3 separate regions of the Homo sapiens genome follow, and all the other regions are linked to region 2. Evidence: fine-mapped QTL for protein levels in blood plasma. A gene starts in region 2. Each other region holds a variant in brackets. All regions are shown on one strand. Distances are from middle to middle. Region 1 overlaps LOC101928516 (a long non-coding RNA gene). Region 2 holds the start of CD109 (CD109 molecule). Region 3 overlaps LOC101928516 (a long non-coding RNA gene).

Evidence for each region. A credible set is the group of variants that fine-mapping cannot tell apart. PIP is the chance, under the fine-mapping model, that this variant and not a neighbour inherited with it causes the effect. Protein levels are from antibody-based Olink assays in UK Biobank. Linkage for the fine-mapping came from a reference panel and not from the study's own genotypes, which makes the PIPs less certain.
Region 1: its variant is the best candidate, but not a certain one, in a credible set for the plasma level of the CD109 protein (UK Biobank, PIP 0.67).
Region 3: its variant is the best candidate, but not a certain one, in a credible set for the plasma level of the CD109 protein (UK Biobank, PIP 0.52).

What each region holds. Positions count from the first base shown.
Region 1 is chr6:74,575,998-74,584,163 of GRCh38, forward strand. The region is part of intron 2 of LOC101928516 (a long non-coding RNA gene); the gene reads left to right. Among named protein-coding and RNA genes, the nearest start is that of SNORD156, 550 kb to the right of the region's middle. The variant A/G (reference allele first, on the strand shown) is at 3,180.
Region 2 is chr6:73,689,371-73,697,556 of GRCh38, forward strand. CD109 (CD109 molecule) reads left to right here and starts at 6,833. Exons shown (of 33, transcript NM_133493.5): 1 at 6,833-6,919; 2 at 8,030-8,186. The coding sequence starts at 6,846. It overlaps CD109-AS1 (CD109 antisense RNA 1), which reads right to left and starts at 6,761. Exons shown (of 2, transcript NR_110889.1): 1 at 6,462-6,761; 2 at 4,533-6,205. RefSeq lists enhancers at 6,463-6,722, 6,676-7,390 and a silencer at 6,953-7,002.
Region 3 is chr6:74,241,426-74,249,613 of GRCh38, forward strand. All of the region lies in intron 1 of LOC101928516 (a long non-coding RNA gene), which reads left to right. Among named protein-coding and RNA genes, the nearest start is that of CD109, 550 kb to the left of the region's middle. The variant G/T (reference allele first, on the strand shown) is at 3,940.

The DNA of each region.
Region 1 (8,166 bases), 890 kb after region 2:
TCAAACAATTATTTAGCTTTGGTATCTCTATTATCAGATGAAACAGAGGTTAAAGCACATCAGTTTAGAAACATTTTTTATCTTGCTCATCACCATATTCCCATTGTTTAGAAGGGTGATGGGAACATAGTGGGATGACTATTTTTTGAATGAAGGAATGAATGGTGCCAGTGAGCATGACTTATGAGACCATAATCCAAAGCCATATAGCCCCTCTAATGCCAGTTTACTTGTCTCCAAAATAGTATTAAAAATAAATATACCCCATCTACCTTATGAATTTGTTAAGAGGATCAAATAAGTTAATTGTGTGAAAAGCTAGCAAAAATTTAAAATTATATATACATGTGGTATTTAATTATATACAAAAGAATGCAAATGTTACAAGTTCTTTCAATTTCTACCCAAGTAATAAATATACCTAAATTTGAGTCACCAACAGCACCATACTGCTTCCATACATTATCATAACCTTTTCCCCCAATTTTAAAGCACATTGAAACAGATTAAATAATTCATCAGAAAAATCAGATTATATATGGAAAAATTCCATCAAGAAATACGTTGAAAAATTCAACCATTACCATAACCTTTAAATTGAAATTCTATGTATCTACAAATATGGTAACTATTAGCAAAGCTTTATTTTTCTTAGGCATCAGAAACAAATTATTTTATTGTTTTGTCATTGATTCAAGTATTTAATAAGATCTTATATGGAGAACTTATAGATTATTTTAGAAAATACACTTCAGGCCAGCTGCGGTAGCTCATGTCTGTAATCCCAGCACTTTGGGAGCCCGAGACTGGTGGATCACCTTAGGTCAAGAGTTTGAGACCAGCCTGACCAACATGGTGAAACCCCATTTCTACTAAAAATACAAAAAATTATTCGGGTGTGGTGGCAGGCGCCTGTAATCCCAGCTACTCAGGAGGATCTCCTGAGCCTAGGAGGTCAAGGCTACACTGTGCCGTGATCATGCCACTACCAAAAAAAAAAAAAGACTAAGAAAAGAAAGAAAAAAAAAGAAAAGCAACTGAGTGAGGGCAAAAAGAAAGAGAAAGAAAAGCAAGTGAGGGCAAACAGTACCTGAGGATATGAAATATTTAAGGAAGGGCTAGGGACAAGATATCTCTGGTGTACCCACCGGTCCAGGCTTTTGCTATTGTACAATAGGGAAGCAAGGAAAATAAAAGAAGGTGTGAAGTAAACCTCTTGGTTTAGTGATTATCAGAGCTTGAATAGAAACAGAGTAAACTTGTCTGTAGAAAGATCAGTCAATGATGGAAATGTAAAGACACTTTTATCAGGTCCTTAAGCTCAGTATCAAACTGGAAACCAATAATTAAGTTCTAAATACTTATAATTTATTTTTTCATTTTTGTGAGTTTGGTCTAATGATCAAGCATCAGCATAATTTTGCTAAAAATAAATTTATGTTGCCTTAATATAAGAGCAACTTATTGACTGTGTCAATATAAAGGTGGAAAGTTTTAAAGCCCAGTAGAAATATTCTAAGTCCAAGAATAGCTTTGCTCATTCACTGGATAATTGTTTTTATATTAAGTGGGTGAGAGGCCAAACTGAGGCTGGACCCTGCATCTCAGGGCTGGAGCCTGGACTGTGGCTTAGGTTTCTAGAGGTATCATCAATACCCCTTTCCTGCAGCCAGAGAGACCACAGGTCCAACAACAGGAATACCACCTACAAAGGAATCTATGGGCTCACATAGTGAGGCTGTGTAACAAGAAGGGGAGAGCAATAAATTATCTACCCATTAGAAACAGGAAGGGAGACAGTGTGTGATAGCCAAAAAGCAGAACAGAAAGAACAGCTGAGAAGGCCTGAGAACCAGGTGAATGGCCTGGAGGAAGGATGGGGGCAAGCAATGTGGATAGCTGGACTCAGGGGGGTTGACCATTTAATATTGTAAACTGCTGAAACACAAGGGCTCAGGGAACTCTGATTATTTTTGTAGGCAAGCAAATATACTGCATGAACAAAGAATAGTTCTTGTATTATTTGAATTTAAAATGTAATTCTTAGGTAACAATATAGGAATTCTGTGGATCTTCATGAACTAGTTTCTGTATCAAGTTTGACTACATTTTATAGGATGAGAGTATATAATTTCATTGGCATACCTTCAGGGAAAGATCTGGAAAAAAAAACAAAAACAAAAAAAAAAAACAAAAAACCTTGCCCATTTTGTCCCAAAAAAGGCAAAAGCTCTGGGGAACCAGGATGAATCTGTTATTTCCTTTAATCCCCTAATAGTAAGGTTTTAATAGGTTCTTAGACATTGATCAGAACCATCTGAGGGTGGTAAGTGGGTCAAGGCTTAGCTCTCTGCCCCTGTTTGCTGTCTGTCCACACAATGGAGTATGTGAGTGAGTAAGCCTGTTGGAAGCTTATTTTTAGTTTCTCTAAAAGGAATTACACATGGGCATCAAATGAACAGTTAGGCCTTTAATGCCATAAAGGATCTGTTCCACACAGATGCAAGAATGTAAGCATTGTTTGTGATCTCTAAAGAGCAATTATATCAAGCAGGAAGGTTTTTTTTTTTCCCCTTCTGTGAAGTATATCATTTCTACACTACTTGATATTTTAGTTAGTTCTTCCTACTATGATTCAGAGGTTTTCTGGTGTTTTATTTAGAAATACCAGATGTTACACTGTAAGTAACTGGGGAGGATTGTGTATGACTATTGAAGTGGAAAAAGTAAAATTCTTTTCTCAGGGAAATGAATAAACACTTGCTTAGTAAAATAAGATAATAGCAGAAAGACTTGAAAACCTTAGTAGAATGGAAATCATATCATGCAAGAGACATTGTTTATTTTGTTAGCATATAAAATTTCAAATAGAAATAGGCTAACTATAATGTTTCCATATCGTGTTAGACCTTTTTGGTGAGTGCAAGTGGTCTGTCTGTCCACACAATGGAGTATCTGAGTGAGTAAGCCTGTTGATGATGAATTTTGGACAAATAAAATTGGTAGATTTGTTTCGTTTTGTTTAGAAGAATAGATCTGAAGTAAACATCAATTATTTTATATAACTTCTAATACTGAACTCTGTAGGGATATAGTTTTTTCCTAAGTATATATTTTATTTTATTCTTTTGACTCTCTTTGACACACATATAATCCAGTTACTCCCACTATATAAATCC[A/G]TGTAATGTTTTGAATCAGCAGAAAGCAGAGTAATGGAAATGTCCTTGTGCCAGAGTGCAGGGCTTTCCATTCATGTACCGCCAGGTTAAATGGAGTGCTATTTACAGGTCTAAAAATCCACAGGGAAATTCTGATTTAAGACTGACTGCAGTACTTCATAACTATCAGGTAGCATCACTCTGGCTAGCACATTCAGTTTGATAAACGGGGTCTGAACAAGACAGAGTAATATGGTTACTAGAACCTGGGCTTGGAGTCAGAGACTTCAGAGTTTACACAGGAATCTACCTTCAGTTGCTTACCAGCTGTCTGAATTTGGCTAGTTGCTTAACCTCTCCAACTCATTTTCTTAAACTGTAATAGGCTTAATAATGTGTCTCTTGAATGACTGTTGTGAGTTTGAAATAAATTAAGCTGTCTGGGGCGTATAGTCTGCTCAATAAATATTATTTCCTTATGCATTTTATATATTATTTAGCTACAAAAAATGACTGACATAAACTTTTTGTTTGTTTTAATCAAGCCTAAGGAAATAGAGCAGAAAGTTCACAAACCATTTGACAAGGATGCTGGAAATAGCATAGAATACCACCAAAACAATGTTAATATTAGTTTGTCATCATCTTTCAGATAAGTACATATAATTCAAATTACAAAAGAAAATCATGCAAAATAATAAATACTCATTAGAAAGTACAAAAAAATTACTACAGGCATGCCATCTTCTCACAATAACTGTGACTTGAACCCAGTTGTGTAAAACATGGTATTAAAGAAGCCAAGGCTGATTGCTGTATTGCAAATGACCTTTGTAACTTAATAGGCTCTCAGTCTAGAAAGACAAATAGTGCATGATCTCGCTTACATGTGGAATATAAAAAAGTCAAAGTCATAGAGCCAGAGAGTGGAATGGTAGTTGCCAGGCAGGCAGAGATGGGGAGATGTTACCCAAAGGGTGCAAACATTCAGTTATAAGACTAACGGGTTCTAGGGATCTAACGCAGAGCATGATGGCTATAGCTAGTGATACTGTATTGCATACTTGAAATTTGCTAAGACAGTAGATACTAAGTATTCTCACCCCCTCAGACACACACAATAATAACTATGTGTGGTGATGGAGGTGTTAATTAATTTGATTGTGGCAATCATTTCACAATGTACAGTATATGTATAGCAAATCATGTTATACATCTTGAATATATACAATTTTTATTTGTCCATTATACCTCAATAAAGCTGGAAAAAAAATAAGTCCTGAATCTTCAATCTCAAAATCTCAAACCTGGCCAGTGCGGCCTAAAGACGCCTAGGAAAGAATCCTTTAATTATTTGAGGTTTCCTTATTTTTTTATTCTAACATTTTGTAACCACCTTTGGTTCAGGAATTCTTCAGAAATATTGCTTAGGATATAGATTTTTGTATGTGTCAAAGCAGTAAAACATAAAGGCATATTAGTCAGAATATATGGAAATACTTATGCCTATCAATATAGATATTAATTATATGTTTACCTCTGTTAACTAAGATAATGGCAGAGCAGAATTTTAGCTACTATTAATTAAACATAATTTGGGGTTAAGAGGATATCAGAGTGGCCTAGAGTACCACAAAAATGAGTGGAATTCAATATTCCAAATTCTACCAGTTCATATATCAAACTGCACCAAATGGGGGATGCAGGTCATCTCAAGGAAGAGCAGTCTCATGGAGCATTTTCTTGTTGCTCCTCTCCAAGGAACGTGCCCACTGATCTGTTTGTCTTTCTCAAAGTCCAGGAAAATGATTTGAATTTGAACTACCAAAGGTGGAGAACTTCATTCTTCCACAATAAAAATAATATGAACACCAGATCAAAGTTAAGAAAACCCACCCTGTCCCACTCCCTATCTCCTTGTCTGTGTGCTCCAGGCAAACAATATTAAGGGAGGAATAAATTATCCTTTAAGTAAGTCAGTCACCTGTGCCTTTGCTCTTGGTACATGTGCTCTTTCCATGTTCCAGAAATCCTTCTAAGAGGTTAGATGCTATCTCTTCTGATTATTCCAACAACTTTATACAAGGTAAATAGATCTTTTATTATCCCCATTTTACAGATGAATAAACTGAATTATAGGGCTAAGTCAGCTATTTAAGGCCTTATATCTGGAGGTGCTGGCTCTCTAGTTTTAGAGCCCATGTTTTTAACCACTAAGTAAATAAGATATCCTAATTAGGGCTTTGAGAATAAAATTGAGTGCATACTCTAATTCTCCAACAAATGCTTGGCCTCGTTCTTCAGGTACACCAGATGTAAGGATGACTAGGGACCCATCAATACCTCTATTGGAAAGTTCAATTTAATTTATTTAACTCTATGCATAACTTTATCCTTGTGTTTCACAGAAAAAATGGCTTCAAAGATGGCTGAATCCTAATTCCTTGAACCTGTAAATATACTAGGCTATATGACAAAGGAGAATGAAGTTTGCAGAGAGAAGTAACGTTGCTAATCAGATGACATTAAAATATGGAGATTACCTTGGATTATGCAGGTGGATCCAATGTAATGACCTTAAAAGTGGAAGAAGTGGGACAGAAGAGAAGGTCAGATTAATGTGAGATGAGAGGTACTCGGCCTTCTATTGCTGACTTTCAGGAAGCGGGGGTGCCGGCAATCCCCAGTGCCCCAAAGGGTGTGTTACCAACTCAGCAGGGCTTTTGCCTCATCACATGGGGTGGCTGCCCTCTGCCAGCAAGGGCAAAGGACCAGTGTGACAGTCTTTTTGTGTTCCTGCACTCAGTGCATTCCGAATTCTTGTCTGGTGTCCAGGAAGAATCAGGTCACATGAACGGTTTGCAAGGTGATGAATGCAGAGTTTTTAGTTGAGTGATGGAAGTGGCTCTGGTGGAAGGGCGCTGGTAAGGGGATGGTGTGGGAAGAAGGTGATCTTCCCCTAAAGCCTGGACACCTCCTCTCTGAAATTGTGCCATCTGAATTTAAGCTGTGTCTATCCATAGTCTCTGACAACTCTCAGTAGTTTCTTCTCCTCTTGATATCCAGCAGCTTGTCTCTCTGCCAGCTGAGATCTGGGGTTTATATGGGCATAGGATAGCGGGGAGGACAAGCCAAAAAGCAGCATTCGGGTGGGAAAACAGGGATGTGAAGTTCTCATTTAGGGCCAGGGGCCCAGGCTTGAGGGTGGAGCCCTTGCATGGGACCCCATGCTCTTCTACCCAGTATTTCCTGGCCTCCTGAACATATCACAGCCAAGGAATGCAGGCAGCCTCTAGAAGCTAGAAAAGATAAAGAAACAGATTTCCTCTGGAGCCAACAGAAAGAATGCAGCCCTGCCACCACCTTGATTTTAGATGTCTGACCTGCATAACTGTAAGGTAGTAAATTTCTGTTGTTTTAAGACAGTAAGTTTATGATTTCACTATGACAGCAATTGAAAATTAATATGATCCTCCAAAAATAAAAATTTAAAAATAAATAAATTAACTAATTAAATAAAATACCCTGAGGTATTTTCATCAATGAGAGTTATATCATTGCTCCTCTCCAAGGAACATGCCCACTGATCTGCTTGTCTTTCTCAAAGTTCAGGAAAATGATTTGAACTACCAAAGGTGGAGAACTTCATTCTTCCACAATGAACATAATGGATGTGTGGATAATGAATAGTGATTATGGATAGTGGATAATGAAAGCGATAGTGAAAATAATGGATGTTTTTAAACATTTACTCAGTAGGTAAGGAAATTCTTTCAGAGGCCCAATTCAAACTCCAATGTTAGGGTGTTTTATCTTTGTCTTGCCCTCACAGCTCTGTCCTGAATGTCTGTACACCTTTTAATCAAATAGAAAGTTTTGACTGGCTATGTTAGCCCAACATGTTACTCCAAACCAGCATGTTTGGACTGGCTATGACTTCATCTCAATTTTAACTTAATCTTAATATTTTCTTCTTATTGGTCAGCATCAGCAGAGTGTTCACCTTATTAATGCATACCTTCAAGCCATGATTCATTCCCTTGAGAATAAGAATTAATTAGGTGTAATAACTAGGGCAAATTGACTATACTCATTGATGATATTATTCCATGGAAAATATCATGTACATCTTGTCTGTCATCATTCTGCTAAATAGCTGTGAATCAATACATTGTAGCTGTACTGAAGACAAAGGTTGTAATCAATTTATGGTCTTAGGCTATTTGCATGACTGAAATCTGAAAACTTCATGAAATCAGGGATCATTACAAATATCCCAATGCCTTGTGCCAGCCACAGAAACTCAGTAACAGACTATTTGACAGAATGGTGTCAATTTAATCATGACATTGCAATGGACTATAGGAAGAGTCAATAAAACACTGATAGTGGAGCAAAAATCTGGCGTGACACCTGACATTGAAAAAGTCGGATGGAATACAACCACATCCATTTGTTCTATGTTGTCTATAGCGGCTTTCACACAGAAACTGCACAGTTGAGTCATTGTGACAAAGACTGTATATCCCACAAAGCTTAAAATATTTACAATTTGGCCTTTTAGAGAAAAAGTTTTATGACCCTTGCAATATAAACACAGAAATCTCAGAGATGCTGTCTTCTTCCTAAACTTTAATATTTAATTCTGATTGTGGATGAGATTAGATTCTCCAACTTTCCATGTTTAAGACTCATTCAAAAAATTCATAAATCTCAAAATATTAGAAATGCAGGATATTGACTGATGACTTGTCAATTACATGATAAATTATCTTAACTATAGAATTAATATGCTGGATTAAGAAATGACCCTTGTTTATGCCTAAGCTTCTAGGGCAAGAAAAAAATGATCAGAAGGAGGAAGGTAGTTCCCCTCCACCTCAAGAGAAACCCTATTGTCATCTACATGTCTCTGGAAAACATTTTTTGAACAAATATGCCAACTAACCAAAAGATGAACATAAGAAAAGACTCAAGAGAGGAAAGACACTATTGAAATGCTAGGGGA
Region 2 (8,186 bases):
TTTCCAGGTAGTTTGTGTTGGGATTGAATTGACTTAGAGGATGCTCAGCTGAGTCTGCTGTAGAATCTGCCAGAGAATTGATTGCTTGGTCAGCATGGGAGAAGCTCTTCTATGCATTTTGGTGGCCAGTGTGTTATATTGAGTGTATAAAAGTGGGAAAACCACTTTGGTTCAGTTTTTCTTATATCCTTACACTACTTTATAGTCTTAATATGCTTATGACATATTTCTTGATCCAAGAAAACTGTAGACACATTTTTTTTTTTTACTTTATAAGGCTCTTAGTGTCTCAGTCAATGCTTTAATTCTTCATCCCTCTTTGACTTTGTAAGTTTTTGTCATCTGTGCTCTTTTCAAGTATTAACACCATTTACATTGTTTTGTAAACATTGTGTATTTCACATATTTCATCAAATCTAAGATACACCACTTACTTTAATACCAAGAAAGAAAATTTATTGTCAATTATTATTATGATACCATTGATTATAAGATCAGAAATGTTACAAATGTGAAAAACATATATTTTAGAAATGGTGAAACAGTGTAATTAAATCTTCTTTGTCAATTCTTTTATTCTGTTATAAATCAGTAAACCATACTTACATCAACACAACTAATTATTTTTCACTGCAAAGCCAACTAATGAATCATGATATATTCTTTTTTATTCAGTGTTTGCTTTTCCCTTGAATTTCTAAATTCCCTTCCTTTTTACTGCACTATTTTACTTTATCATAGTCTCAGTTTTCTTGTATTTCATTATGTACATCTATTCGATTAAGATCCCTTTTATTTCCCTTAAGAGCTTACTCCTGGAATTTTTCCTATTAGAAGTTCTCTCTTCATTTTTTTCTGGGGTTATATATACATTTCCCTTTTTCTTGGCTTATTTCACTTCGTTGCTAAATATGTCTTCCTAAAGTAACTTCCTAAAATGAATTTGTGAAAGGCGAAGTTTCTGAGCCATTCCATTTCTGAAAATGTTTTTATTCCTTTTGTTTGTTTTATTATGCAGGTGATAAACATTTTTTTTGTTTGTTTTTTTGAGACGGAGTTTCGCTCTTGTTGTCCAGGCTGGAGTGCAGTGGTGTGATCTCGGCTCACCGCAACCTCCGCCTCCCAGGTTCAAGAGATTCTCCTGCCTCAGCCTCCTGAGTAGCTGGGATTACAGGCATGTGCCACCACGCCTTGCTAATTTTGTATTTTTAGTAGATACGGGGTTTCTCCATGTTGGTCAGGCTGGTCTCAAACTCCTGACCTCAGGTGATCTGCCCGCCTCGGCCTCCCAAGTGCTGGGATTACAGGCGTGAGCCACCGTGCCCGGCTGCAGCTGATGAACATTTTATTTAAAAAAGGTTTGTAAAACATGAGGAAATGCTTATGATGGAATAATTAAATGGGAAAAGTAGGACACAAAGCACAAAGTTGTATTATATTTATAACATAATTACTCTTTAAAAAAGATACCAGCAAATTATGTGGAGAAAGAAAGAGAGGAAGGAAACACAACAAAATGAAATAATGCTTGTCTCTGGGTAGTGGTAAGACTGTAGCAGATTTTTTTTTCTCATCATCTTTCTACATTTTGTGTACTGAGCAGCTACTCTACCTGACCTCTCACCCCTTCTCCAGGGGAATAGATAGGGTCACCTTCATGTTTCTGCCGTGTTCCTCCCCTCTTCCCTTTCAGCCACCCACCTGCTCTCTGCTTTCCTGCTCTTCTCCCCGGCCACCAGAACCCACAGGCAATTAACACTTTCTGGACAAAGAAGGAGCCAAGGTTTTCCCCATCATTTTTCTAAAGGCAAAAGTGCATGGCTAGGGAGGGAGACTAGAAAGGCAACTAACTGCTCCCTGCCAGTCCTGGTCTCACCCCTTCCAATGTCCATCTGATTGGGGCCTGGACTCAGGTGGCCCCAGGAAAGCCTCCAGCTGGTGTTATGGACAGAGCAGACTATAAAGGGGAGGTGGGGTACCCCATACACCTGTATTTTTTACTTTCTGAAGCTTGGTTTAGAGTGCTAGGCAGTTGGGAACACTTGTCCATACTGTTACTAATGTGCCAGTTCACTTTGTGGGTTCAGGGCCACAGTCAGGCCTGTAGCTCCTTTAGTTCTCAGAGGCTCTCTTCCTTCAGTTTTTCTGAATTGTGGGCCAAATGTACATGAAGCTCTGGACAAAGGACACCAGCTTCTCCTGCAGGTTACTCATGACATGGAAGTTGGAGGTGGTAAGATGGACATGGGTTCCACTTCTCAATCAGTTTTTCTTTATTCTTACCCACATTTAGCTTTTCTCCCCTGGCTGACTCATAGTTATGTTATGCTGCACACCACACACAGGGGCAATGGTTTGCACAAACTGCCCTACCAGCTCCCATGATTGCTTAGGGTCTGTCTCACTCATAGTGGTTCTGCCTTTCTCATTGAATTACTCTGTTCTTGCATTGCTATAAAGTAACACCTGAGACTGGGTAACTTATAAAGAAAAGAAGTTTAATTGGCTCACAGTTCCACAGGCTATATAGGAAGCATGTCAGCATCTGCTTCTAGGGAGGCCTCAGGGAGCTTTTACTCATGGTCTCAACTTTAACATTGCCAAAGTATGGCAGAAGGGGCTGATGTATGGGCTCGTGGTATCTTACATGGCAGGAGAAGGACCAAAAGAGGTGGGGGGAGGTGCCACATACTTTTAAACAACCAGATCTCATGAAGATTCACTATCGCAAGAACAGCACCACGGGGGAAATCTGCCCCCATGATTCAATCACCTCCTACCAGGCCCCACCTCCGAAATTGGGGATTTGACATAAGATCTGGGCAGGGACACAGATCCAAACCATATCAACACCTTAAAGACAGCTCAGGAGGGACACAGGAACAGTGTGGGGTTCTTATCCAAGAGACCATTAGGTTTTCATGCAATAAGCATAGATGATATTTTTGGTATCAAAATTCAGAAGTTTTATGCAAAAGAGCTTCTAAGATGCCCCCTCAAAAACTATTTACTAAAATAATATTATTATTGTTTTCTTCTTAAAGGAGATATAATATATATTTATTGTAGGAAACTTGGCATATCCAGGTAATCACCAGGATACTGATAATAGCATTTTGGTGAATATCCTTCAAGTCTTTCTTCAGTGCATAGATCTGTAATGTCTATGTACACATAAATACACTTTATTTTTTATAAAAATAAAATGAAATTTAAATTCTGTTTTATAAAACAGACTTCCCCTCTGATATGGTTTGGCTGTGTCCCCACCCAAATCTCATCTTGAATTGCAGCTCTCATAATTCCCACATGTCACGGGAGGGACCCAGTGGGATGTAATTCAATTTTGGGGGTGGGTCTTTCCCATGCTTTTCTTGTGATAGTGAATAAATTTCACGAAATATGATGGTTTTATAAAGGGGAGTTCCCCTACATATGCTCTCTTGCCTGCCACCATGTAAGACTTGACTTTGCTCCACATTCGCCTTCCACCATAATTGTGAGGCCTCCCAGCCATGTGGAACTGTGAATCAATTAAATCTCTTTCCTTTATAAATTACCCAGTCTCAGGTATGTCTTTATTAGCAGGGTGAGAACAGACTAATATACCCTCCTTAATAACATATGAATATTTGTCTCTAGATGGTTAAACAAGCTCCAATTAAACAAATAGTTTTTAATTATTTCAGTATTCCATTGCATGGATATACTGTAATTTATTTAATCCTGTTTTTGTCTGTTTTGTGTTGCTATAAGGTAGTACCCAAGGCTGGGTAATTTATTAAAAAAAAAAGTTTACTTGGCTTACAATTCTGCAGGCTGTTCAAGAAGCATGACATTGGCATTTGCTTGGCTTCTGGTGAGGTCCTCAGGCTGCTTCCACTCATGTGGAAGGGGAAGGGGAGCTAGTGTGCAGAGATCCCATGGTGAGAGAGGAAACAAGAGAAGCAGGAGGTGCCAGGCTCTTTTTAACAACCAATTCTTGTGGGAACTGAGTACTCACTCACCCCCCGACCCCCAGGGAGGACATTCATCTATTCATGAGGATCCACCCACAGAACCCAAACATCTCACATTGTGCTCTACCTCCAACACTGGGGATCAAATTTCAGCATCAGCTTTGGGCGACAAACATCCAAATGACAGCAAACCCAATATCTTATTGTTACATGTTCAGACCATTTTCAGTTTTTCTTTTGAGACAGAGTCTTGCTCTGTCACCCAGACTGGAGTGCAGTGGCACCATCTTGGCTCACTGCAGCCTCCACCTCCTGGGTTCAAGTGATTGTCATGCCACAGCCTCCTGAGTAGCTTTTATTACAGGTATGTGCCACCATGCTGGGCTAATTTTTGTATTTTTAGTAGAGACAGGGTTTCACCATTTTGGCCAGGCTGGTCTTGAACTCCTGCCCTCAAGTGATTTGCCTTCCTCAGCCTCCCAAAATGTTGGGATTACAGGCATAAGCCACCATGCCCGGCCCATTTTCAGTGTTTCTTTTTTCTTTTCTTTCTTTTCTTTTCTTTTTTTTTTTGAGACGGAGTTTTGCTCTTGTTGCCCAGGCTGGAGAGCAATTCTGCGATCTCGGCTCACTGCAACCTCCAACGCCCAGGTTCAAGCAATTCTCTTGCCTCAGTCTCCTGAGTAGCTCGGATTACAGGCATGTGCCACCATCCACACTTGGCTAATTTTGTATTTTTAGTAGAGATGGGGTTTCACAATGTTGGTCAGGTTGGTCTCGAACTCGTGACCTTAGGTGATCCACCCGCCTCGGTCTCCCAAATTACTGGGATTACAGGTGTGAACCACCACGCCTGGCCTCATTTTCAGTTTTTCTTAATAAAAAATCCCACTTCTGAGATGAACATTTTTCATTAATCCTTTTAACACATTTTTATTGAATAGCTACTCTGTGCCAGGCATGTAATAGCCTCATCTCTATGCAAATCCATATGCCTAAATTTTTGCATGACTACGCCTTTCGACAAGTGTGTATTGTGGGAAGGAGGGCATAAACAGGAAGGTGGCATCACTTTAAAATCCACACAGATTTATACAATGTGGTTCTAAGACTTTCTGTAAGTCTTCTCGGGAGGCAACATTATCATCTAATCTTTTGCAGTCCCTCTTATGTTTGCCTACCTCTAGAATGAACCTGAATTTATTAATCCACCTTTATGAAGTGAAAGATTGAGAAGAATTTTCTGTGTTCTTAATTGCCTTTGCTCATCAAATTGCCCCCAAATTGCCCCCACTTGTAGAGTCTCCATGGCCTACTGTCTGCTAAAGTAAAGCAGAATCCCAGTCCTCGTTCCAGACCTGCCAAGTCAGAGTCTGTTTTCATGTGATTCTCACACACATTGGCATGTGAGAAGCACTGAGTTAGACCTTGGTGCTTGGCCCACCCTTGACCATGGTCCTCCTCTCTGAACAACGGAGGTGAGGAGACCAGTAGTAACAGCTGTGTCAGGAACAGGTCAGCACCCAGGGATCCACACAGACACTTTTGACCATTCCTAAGTCCTGCCTGCACAGGAAGTTGGCCACTAAAGATAGGCTGCCTGAAGGAAAGGACATAAGGACCTTTGCAAGCTGTTCAGCAGGGAGAAAAAGGGTGGAACAGGAAAGGGAGGAAAGCAAGTTTCTGGATTCCCCAAACCACAGTTTGTCTAGGTGCTACTTTCTCACTTTTCCTTATTTAGCACATAGCTTTGTCATGAGACATCTTTTTGCTGACCTCTTTTCCGTTTGCATTTTGCCCCATATTAGAATGCTACCATCTAAAACCGCTCCATGAATTAGAAAGTTTAAGTTGTCAGGGACTGAATGTGTCTGTTTTCCAACAGTTTCTGGCAGTTCCCTGCTTTTATGGTGTAGTCATGGTGAAACCTGAGTCATCTGAAGATGGTGGCAGTGCCAGAGAGCAGGAGAGAGGAGCTGCAAAGAAGCCAGACAGCGTTGGGCATCAATAACTCCTGGGCACCACCGGCCACTGGCCTTCATTCTGACAGGAGAGCCAACCCAACCCTAACTGTGTTCAGAGATTGCTCCAAGCTTTACAGTTCTACCAAATTCTTTCTGTAGCAAAAATATAAAGGCATCTTCTTAGGTAATTTTTTTTCAGGGTTCCAAGTAGCAACACCTAACGTCTGCAGTGCGAGTTCTCTTCTTCTTTTTTTTTTTAAGGTGATAAATCATAACATTTTCCTGGAAAGGAAAGCAGTAGACCTCATTTTTTGTTTTAAGGAAAAATAGTTTTTCTGTTTCCATTCATATACATTAAATAACTACCCAGGAAATACGCCCCGGTTTTGCGCGCGTGTGCGTGCGTGTGTGTGTGCGTGTGTGTGTGTGCCGTTTCTCTAAAATTCTGACTCATAGTCTGGAGGACAATGATTGACTTTTTTCCACTTCACATAGTTGCTATGAATTTCTCCTCACAAGGATGGGCCTGTTTACTCACCCTGGGCATCGTTGGTAGAGCGCTAGTGTAAACAGCCTGAGGAACCCGGTGGGCCGGGGAAGTGGGCGCGCTCTGTTCTCCGCGGCCAGCTGGGACGCCGGGCCAGGTGGGGCCGCCTGCGTTTAGCAACTGCTTTCTCACCCCCTGGATTTGCGATGTTTGCCACAGCAGCGAGAAGCGCCATTGTAATGGGGATGGGAGGGGTGGAGCCTCCAAGTCCTGTCTCAATTTAGATCTCTCACTCTGCTGTTAGGCGCGCCCATTTCAGATTACTAAACTCGAATTAAGAGGGAAAAAAAATCAGGGAGGAGGTGGCAAGCCACACCCCACGGTGCCCGCGAACTTCCCCGGCAGCGGACTGTAGCCCAGGCAGACGCCGTCGAGATGCAGGGCCCACCGCTCCTGACCGCCGCCCACCTCCTCTGCGTGTGCACCGCCGCGCTGGCCGTGGCTCCCGGGTAGGAACGTGGGCGCGCGGGGGGCGCGCGGGCGCGCGGGCCTGGGCCGCTCTGCGGCTCTGGGCCAGGGCTTCGGGGAGGTGGCGGCTGCTGTGCAGCAGCGGGTGGGAAATGCCCTCGCGGCTGCAGTCCCCAGCCTGGTACTGGCCTGGAGGTTTGACCATATGTAGCTTCAGCGTGGCTCTCCATGGGACAGTTAACTTTCTCCACTCATGAAGTTGTTTAAGCGTCTCCCCGGCCATAACAACTTTCTGAAGAGAGTCATTTTATTTTTAGTCCACATTGCCTCTGCCTTTTGCTTCTCAACTTTTTGCTCCCAGATTGCGATTCTTCTCTCAAAGACATGATATATTTTTTCTAACCAAGATGTCTCAACCTTAGCATTGCCAAAGTGTGGCGGAGGGGACTGATGTATGGGTTCAGGGGCAGACATTATAGGAAGAAAACAACAGCACCCAATAATGGCAAGCCCCATTCATTCCTAAAGATTTCTGTAGTTGAGCCCTAACCCCTAGTTATAGCAGAGAAAGTGCTGCTTTAGTGACTTCTTTTATGATTCGCTATACCTGGAATTTTCACCAGTTGTAGTTTATTTTCAAATGGTATATTTCAATCAATGGTATTGGTTAAATAATTTTTTACCCTCGTTGGGCAGCTACTCAAGGATAAAGGTTTGAATAAGAAACAGGCAAAATCTTAGTTAAAAAATAACAACAACAACAAGAAAATAATCACGCTGGGATAAGGTCCTCTGTAAAGGAGAAGCTTAGAGACTTTTGCTTTGCCAATAACTCCATTATGCCCCGGTGCAAGCCATTTACATCATGGTTCCTTCTGTGCGGTTCGTGGTTTATAAAATGGAAATAATAACACAGGCCTTCCTCTAGTAGTGATGCATGAATTACTGCATTAAAATTGATTTATGGGAATTATTGTTGTTTCAGTAGCATTTCAATTCAGTTGCCAAATAGAGCAGTGGGCAATGTTAACGGAAACAACTGCAATTGGCGCAGTATGGAGTGCCTATCGCACTAGGAAATCTGAGGGTCACAAAAGAAAGGAGATGTGAGGATAAGAAACTTTGTTTTTCCCTTGTTGGGAACTCTTTAGGCCTCGGTTTCTGGTGACAGCCCCAGGGATCATCAGGCCCGGAGGAAATGTGACTATTGGGGTGGAGCTTCTGGAACACTGCCCTTCACAGGTGACTGTGAAGGCGGAGCTGCTCAAGACAGCATCAAACCTCACTGTCTCTGTCCTGGAAGCAGAA
Region 3 (8,188 bases), 550 kb after region 2:
CATTATTTTAACCTGATAACAACTTAACACTGTTTGCATCAAGAAACAAGCAAGAAGAAAACTAATAAAAACTCTGCACCTTAACTTCATTCCTCAGCTTTTTAACTTTTTATTATATTTATATTTAATTGTACTTTGTCTTGAAAAGTTGTAGTTATTATTTTTGATTGGCTCATAATTTAATCTTTCTATTTAGAATAACAGTAGTGTACACATCCCAGTTACAGTGTTGTAATATTCTACGTTTTTCTGTGCACTAACTACTGCCAGTGAGTTTTGTACCTTCATGTGATTATTTATTGCTCATTAATGTCCTTTGCTTTCTGATTGAAATACTCTCTTTTGCATTTCTTGTAGGACAGGTCTGGTATTGATGAAATCCCTCAGCTTTTGTTTTTCTGAGGTAGTCTTTATTTCTCCCTTATGTTTGAAGGATATTTTTGCTAGATATACTATTCTAGGGTAAAAGTTATTTTCCTTTGGCACTTTAAATATATCATGCCACTCTCTCTTGACCTTTAAGTTTTCCACTGAAAAGTCTGTTGCCAGACATATTGGAGCTCCTTGTATGTTATTTTTTTTCTTTTCTCTTGCTGCTTTTAGGATCTTTTCTTTATCCTTGACCTTTGGGAGTTTGATTATTAAATGCCTTGAGGAAGTTTTTTTCTGGGGGGGGGTTAAATTTGCTTGGTGTTCTATAACCTTCTTGTACTTGGATATTGCCATCTTTACTAGGTTTCAGAAGTTCTCTGTTACGATCTTGTTGAATAAACTTTCTACCCCTATCTCTTTCTCTACCTCCTCTTTAAGATTTTATAGATCTTGTAGGTGTGCTTGTTTTTTATTTCTTGTTTCTTTTGTCTCCTCTGTGTATTTTCAAATAGCCTGTCTTCAAGCTCACTAATTCTTTCTTCCACTTGATCTAATTTTTCTTTTTAAGGTCTCTGATGCATTCTTTAGTATGCCTATTGCAATTTTCAGATGCAGAATTTCTGTTTGATTCTTTTTGATTATTTTATCTCTTTGTTAAATTTATCTGCTAGAATTATGAATTCCTTTTCATATTTTCTTGAATTTCTTTGAGTTTGCACAACACTGCTATTTTGAATTCTCTGTCTAAAAGTTCACATATCTCTGTTTTTCTAGAATTGGTCCCTGGTGCCTTATTTAGTTCACTTGGTGAGGTCATGTTTTTCTGGGTGGCGTTGATGCTAGTAGATATTCTTCAGTCTCTGGGCATTGAAGAGTTACGTATTTATTGTAGTCTTCACTGTCTGGGCTTACTTGTAGCCATATTTCTTGGGAAGACTTTCCAGATATTTGAATGAACTTGGGTGTTTTGATTTAAACTGTATCTGTTTTAGAGGGCACCCCGAGCCCAATAATGCTGTGGTTCTTTCAGACTCATAGAGATACGACTTTTATAGTCTTGGATAAAAGATCCAGGATAATTTGTGGATTACCAGACAGAGGCTCTCGTTCTTTTGTCTTACTTTATCCCAAACATACAGAGTCTTTCTCTCTGTTCTGAGACACCCACAGATGGAGTTGGAGTGACACAAGCACCCTTGTGGCCACCACCACTATGGCTGTGCTGGGTCATACCTGAAGCCAGCACAGTGCAGTGTGTCACCCAAGGCCTGCTATAACCACTCCTGGGCTATTTCCTATGGTTGCTTATGGCCCTGGGGCTCTACTATCAGCGGGTGGCAAAGCCAACCAGGCCTGTGTCCTTCCCTTCAGGACAGTGATGTCCCCCACGCCCCAGGTGGCTGCTGAAGTGCCTTCAGTGAATCAGGGACTAAGGTCAGAAATATTAGAAGTCTACCTGTTGTTCTATCATATTGCAGCTGAGCTGGCACTGAAACCGCAAGATGCAGTTCTTCCGATTCTTCCCTCTCCCTTCTAAAGTAAGAGGAGCCTTAACCCATAGCCATCGCTACCCCAGGCCATGAGGAATGCTGCCAGACTACTGTCAGTATTCCCTTAAGGCCCAGGGTCTCTGAAGTCAGCTTGTAGTGAATGCTGCCTGGCCTGGGACTCAGCCTTCAGGGCAGTGGGCTCCCCTCTGGCCCAGGGTAGGTCTAGAATTGCTATCCAAGAGTCAAGTCCTGGAATCAGGGACCCCAAAACCCAGCTTGGTGCTCTACCACACTATGGCCACAGTAGTACTTAAGGTCCGCAACAAAGTCCCCTTTCCTTTTCCCTCTGATTTTCTCAAGCAGAAGGCATTTTGCCCCATAGCCACAGCAGCTGGTAATGTGCTAAATCTCACCTGAAGTCAGCAAGTCTCAGAGGCTCGCCCAAGGCCCTCCATGTAGTATCTGGGTATTGTGCTGGTTATTCAGAGCCCAAGGGCTCTTCAGTAAGCAGATGATGAATGCTGGCAGAGCTGGGTCCTTTCCTTCAAGGCAGCAGTTTCCCTTCAGACCCAGGGTGTGTCTAGAAATATCGTCTTGGAGCTAGGGCCTGAAACAAGGGACCTCAAGTCTCTTACGTGTGCCCTATCCTCCTGTGGCTGAGCAGGTATCCATGATGCAAGACATAGTCCTCCCCACTCTTTCCTCTTTTCTCCTCAAGTGGAAGGAAGGGGCTTTTTTTAGAGCCACAAGCTATGCATCCTGGGGTTAGAGGAGAAGTGATGCCAATACTCTATTGGCAACCCCGGTTGGTGTCTTAGTATGTTGCGTGCCCTCACAGTCCAGTGTCTCTGGGGCTAGTTAAGTCCTAGGACTCGTCTAAGAGTTGCAGTCCTTATGGCCTGGACTGCTTTTCAAGTTTACTTAGATACTGACAGCACTTTGGCCCTTGGTGGTGAGGTTTGTGGGCACTCAACTGTGGACCTCTGGGATTAGTGATTCCCCTCCCGCTAGGGCTGGTTTAAATGCTCCCTCTGTGGTGGACATCAGCTGAGTTTGGTCTGGCTTTCCTTTCTATTCCAACTGAACAGCGCTGAGTTCAGTGCCTCACAATCGCTTTGTTCCTCCTACCCCCGTGCCCAGAGAAGCTCTCTGCACCATGTAGACTCTGCCAGGGGTGGAAAAGGGGTAGCATCCATAAATTCAAGCCTGTTTTTTCTATCTCTTCAGTTCCTCTTTCAGCAATATGAAGTTAAAACCAGGACCATGAGTCCTCATCTGACTTTTGGTTCTTATGAAGGTGTTTTTTTCTGTGTAGATAGTTTTTAACTTGGTGTCCTTGTGGGAGGATGATTGGTGGAGTTTTCTATTCTGCCATCTTGCTCCACTTCTCCCACTGTGGTTTTGATTTGTGCTTCTCTAGTAATTAGTGACGTTGAGCAATTTTTTCATATGTTTATTGTCCATGTATATGTCTTCTTTTGAAAAGCATCTGTTAATGTTCTTTGCCCACTTTTTAATAAGGTTATTTTTTTTATTGTTCATTTGTTTAAGTTCCTTATATATTCTTGAAATTAGATCTATTTGGTTGCATGGTTTGCAAATATTTTCTCCCATTCTCTAAGTTATCTATTTACTCTGTTAATAGTTTCATTTGCTCTGCAGAAGCTCTTTAATTTGATTAGGTTTCACTTACTTTTTGCTTTTGTTGCAGCTTCTTCTGGCATCTTTGTCATGAAATTTTTGCCAGGACTTGTATTCAGAATGATATTTCCTAGGTTTTCTTCAAGAATTTTTATAGATTTAGGTTTTACATTTAAGTCTTTAAGTCATCTTGAGTTGATTTTTGTATATGGTGTAAGGAAGGGGTCTAGTTTCAATCTTCTGCATGTAGCAAGTCAGTTAGCACCATTTATTAAAAAGGGAGTGGCATAAAAAATTAATTTTTATAATCCATTTGTTGGAATCAGGTTTTAAACAAGGTTCACATACTATATTTGGTTAAAATGTCTTAAGCTTATTTTAATCTATGGTATTTTATTCTTTTTTTTATTATTATACTTTAAGTTTTAGGGTACAT[G/T]TGCACAATGTGCAGGTTAGTTACATATGTATACATGTGCCATGCTGGTGTGCCGTACCCATTAACTCATCATTTAGCATTAGGTATATCTCCTAATGCTATCCCTCCCCCCTCCCCCCACCCCACAACAGTCCCCAGAGTGTGATGTTCCCCTTCCTGTGTCCATGTGTTCTCATTGTTCAATTCCCACCTATGAGTGAGAACATGCAGTGTTTGGTTTTTCATCCTTGTGATAGTTTGCTGAGAATGATGGTTTCCAGTTTCATCCATGTCCTTACAAAGGACATGAACTCATCATTTTTTATGGCTGCATAGTATTCCATGGTGTATATGTGCCACATTTTCTTAATCCAGTCTATCATTGTTGGATATTTGAGTTGGTTCCAAGTCTTTGCTATTGTGAATAGTGCCACAATAAACATACGTGTGCATGTGTCCTTATAGCAGCATGATTTATAGTCCTTTGGGTATATACCCAGTAATGGGATGGCTGGGTCAAATGGTATTTCTAGTTCTAGATCCCTGAGGAATCGCCACACTGACTTCCACAATGGTTGAACTAGTTTACAGTCCCACCAACAGTGTAAAAGTGTTCCTATTTCTCCACATCCTCTCCAGCACTTGTTGTTTCCTGACTTTAATGATTGCCATTCCAACTGGTGTGAGATGGTATCTCATTGTGGTTTTGATTTGCATTTCTCTGATGGCCAGTGATGATGAGCATTTTTTCATGTGTTTTTTGGCTGCATAAATGTCTTCTTTTAAGAAGTATCTGTTCATGTCCTTCGCCCATTTTTAATGGGGTTGTTTTTTTCTTGTAAATTTGTTTGAGTTCATTGTAGATTCTGGATATTAGCCCTTTGTCAGATGAGTAGGTTGCGAAAATTTTCTCCCATTTTGTAGGTTGCCTGTTCACTCTGATGGTGGTTTCTTTTGCTGTGCAGAAGCTCTTTAGTTTAATGAGATCCCATTTGTCAATTTTGGCTTATGTTGCCATTGCTTTTGGTGTTTTAGACATGAAGTCTTTGCCCATGCCTATGTCCTGAACAGTAATACCTAGATTTTCTTCTAGGGTTTTTATGGTTTTAGGTCTAACGTTTAAGTCTTTAATCCATCTTGAATTAATTTTTGTATAAGGTGTAAGGAAGGGTTCCAGTTTCAGCTTTCTACATATGGCTAGCCAGTTTTCCCAGCACCATTTATTAAATAGGGAATCCTTTCCCCATTGCTTATTTTTCTCAGGTTTGTTAAAGATCAGATAGTTGTAGATATGCGGCATTAGAAGTTGAATCTCTGAATAGACCATTAACAGGCTCTGAAATTGTGGCAATAATCAATAGCTTAGCAACCAAAAAGAGTCCAGGACCAGATGGATTCACAACCGAATTCTACCAGAGGTACAAGGAGGAACTGGTACCATTCCTTCTGAAACTATTCCAATCAATAGAAAAAGAGGGAATCCTCCCTAACTCATTTTATGAGGCCAGCATCATTCTGATACCAAAGCCGGGCAGAGACACAACCAAAAAAGAGAATTTTAAACCAATATCCTTGATGAACATTGATGCAAAAATCCTCAATAAAATACTGGCAAACCGAATCCAGCAGCACATCAAAAAGCTTATCCACCATGATCAAGTGGGCTTCATCCCTGGGATGCAAGGCTGGTTCAATATACGCAAATCAATAAATGTAATCCAGCATATAAACAGAGCCAAAGACAAAAACCACATGATTATCTCAATAGATGCAGAAAAAGCCTTTGACAAAATTCAACAACCCTTCATGCTAAAAACTCTCAATAAATTAGGTATTGATGGGACGTATTTCAAAATAATAAGAGCTATCTATGACAAACCCACAGCCAATATCATACTGAATGGGCAAAAACTGGAAGCATTCCCTTTGAAAACTGGCACAAGACAGGGATGCCCTCTTCCAACATAGTGTTGGAAGTTCTGGCCAGGGCAATCAGGCAGGAGAAGGAAATAAAGGGCATTCAATTAGGAGAAGAGGAAGTCAAATTGTCCCGGTTTGCAGACGACATGATTGTATATCTAGAAAACCCCATTGTCTCAGCCCAAAATCTCCTTAAGCTGATAAGCAACTTCAGCAAAGTCTCGGGATACAAAATCAATGTACAAAAATCACAAGCATTCTTATACACCAATAACAGACAAACAGAGAGCCAAATCATGAGTGAACTCCCATTCACAATTGCTTCAAAGAGAATAAAATACCTAGGAATCCAACTTACAAGGGACGTGAAGGACCTCTTCAAGGAGAACTACAAACCACTGCTCAATGAAATAAAAGAGGATACAAAGAAATGGAAGAACATTCCATGCTCATGGGTAGGAAGAATCAATATCGTGAAAATGGCCATACTGCACATGGTAGTTTATAGATTCCATGCCTTTCCCATCAAGCTACCAATGACTTTCTTCACAGAATTGGAAAAAACTACTTTAAAGTTCATATGGAACCAAAAAAGAGCCCGCATCGCCAAGTCAATCCTAAGCCAAAAGAACAAAGCTGGAGGCATCACGCTACCTGACTTCAAACTATACTACAAGGCTACAATAGCCAAAACAGCATGGTACTGGTACCAAAACAGAGATATAGAGCAATGGAACAGAACAGAGCCCTCAGAAGTAACGCCGGTATTTTATTCTTAATGCCACTTTTTTAATTACAAAAAGTTTATTTTTTCAATAGAATTGCTATAACAAAGTTCTAAATAATAAAAAAGCTGTGTATAAATTAATTAATAGTATTCTATTTTCTTTCCTTGTGATGTAGTAAAAATGGTGCATCTCATAATGACACTTAGATCTGATGAAACAGAGTAAAAGTCAGTTAAATTTTTCTGTGTTCCAGCTTCCTCTTCTGTACAGCTAGAAGGTTAGATAAGGAATTCTGAGGATCTTTCTTGTTCTAAAAGTCTATGAATTTACACATATGAAAAGATCCTGTAAGCTAAGCTAAGCTAGTAGAAACAGATCTAAGTAACTTCTTTGCCCTCCTTGAAGTAAACTTAGAATATCTGTACATGTCTCCCAAACAAGTCCAATTTCACAGTGTTAGAGTATAACATCTATACTAAAGATTTTGTGGGTGATGCAGAATGTAGTGTCATAGGTTATAAAGCAAACCTTCAAAAACAAAGCCACTAAAAGTTCTTGTTCCATCCCTCTCCAACTTCTTTTTTAGCTTCTGTCTGCTTTTTCTGTTGAAACTCATCATTGCAGGTTCTCCAGTTTCATTTTATCCTTCTCTGCTTCCTGGAATTCTTATCAAATATTTATATCTTTATATTTCCTCATGCTTTTCTTTATTGTCTTTTTATCCTCATACCCACCACACTGATCATCAAACAATCTACTTCTTTAGAAGGCAAGTGGGAAAGTGGGAGGTTTTCTTCATAATAAATAATATTTTATAGGTACATTTATACTGAATTTTTGCCCTTATGAAGCACCTATGTGCCAGAAACTAGGCAATATGCTAGGAATAAAAAAAAATTCTCTCTTTTCCTCATGAATTAGTAGCCAGATTATTTACATGAATTAGAAAGAAGTCAAGGTTATGTATGAAGTAAAAGACAGTGTGGTGTGATTTTTTTTTAAAAAAAGGTAATTCATAATTTATTCCACTTTTGCAGTCATTAGATCTCCATGGAATATTTGCATATTCCCTTAGTGTTTGTGGGTGATAGAAAGCTATTGTAAAGCCAGAATTCTCCTGCCAGGATTCCATCAGGAGTTACCTGCTGGCTCGATGTCCCAGTCTGTGCTTAAAGCAGGATGAGAAAGCTTTGCCACAGGAAATGAGATAATGCATGTACAAACTCATTTATCTTCTCAGGAAAATACATTACTTTAAGTTGTATCTTTATGCTCTACACATTTTAACAGACACACAGCAGTTACCCTTGGTTTTTCTTCTTTACTGTCACTGATTCACAATCATAATTAAAAATGCCAAACGCATCTTTATGTGAAACAAAATAATTTTTTTCTTATTTTTATAGACAAAACCGTCCAAAATGACATATTTTTCTCCAGGAAAGACAGCATGTTGGTGTAGGAAACAGAGTTAGTGTGCTATGGAGTTAGAAGACCTGGATTTCACCATTTAAAAGCCATGTGAACTTGAGCCAGTCCCTGAACCTGTTTATTCATCTATTAAATGAAAAATAGGAATCTCTCTAATTCATGAAAACTTTGAGAAGATTAAATTAGACAAG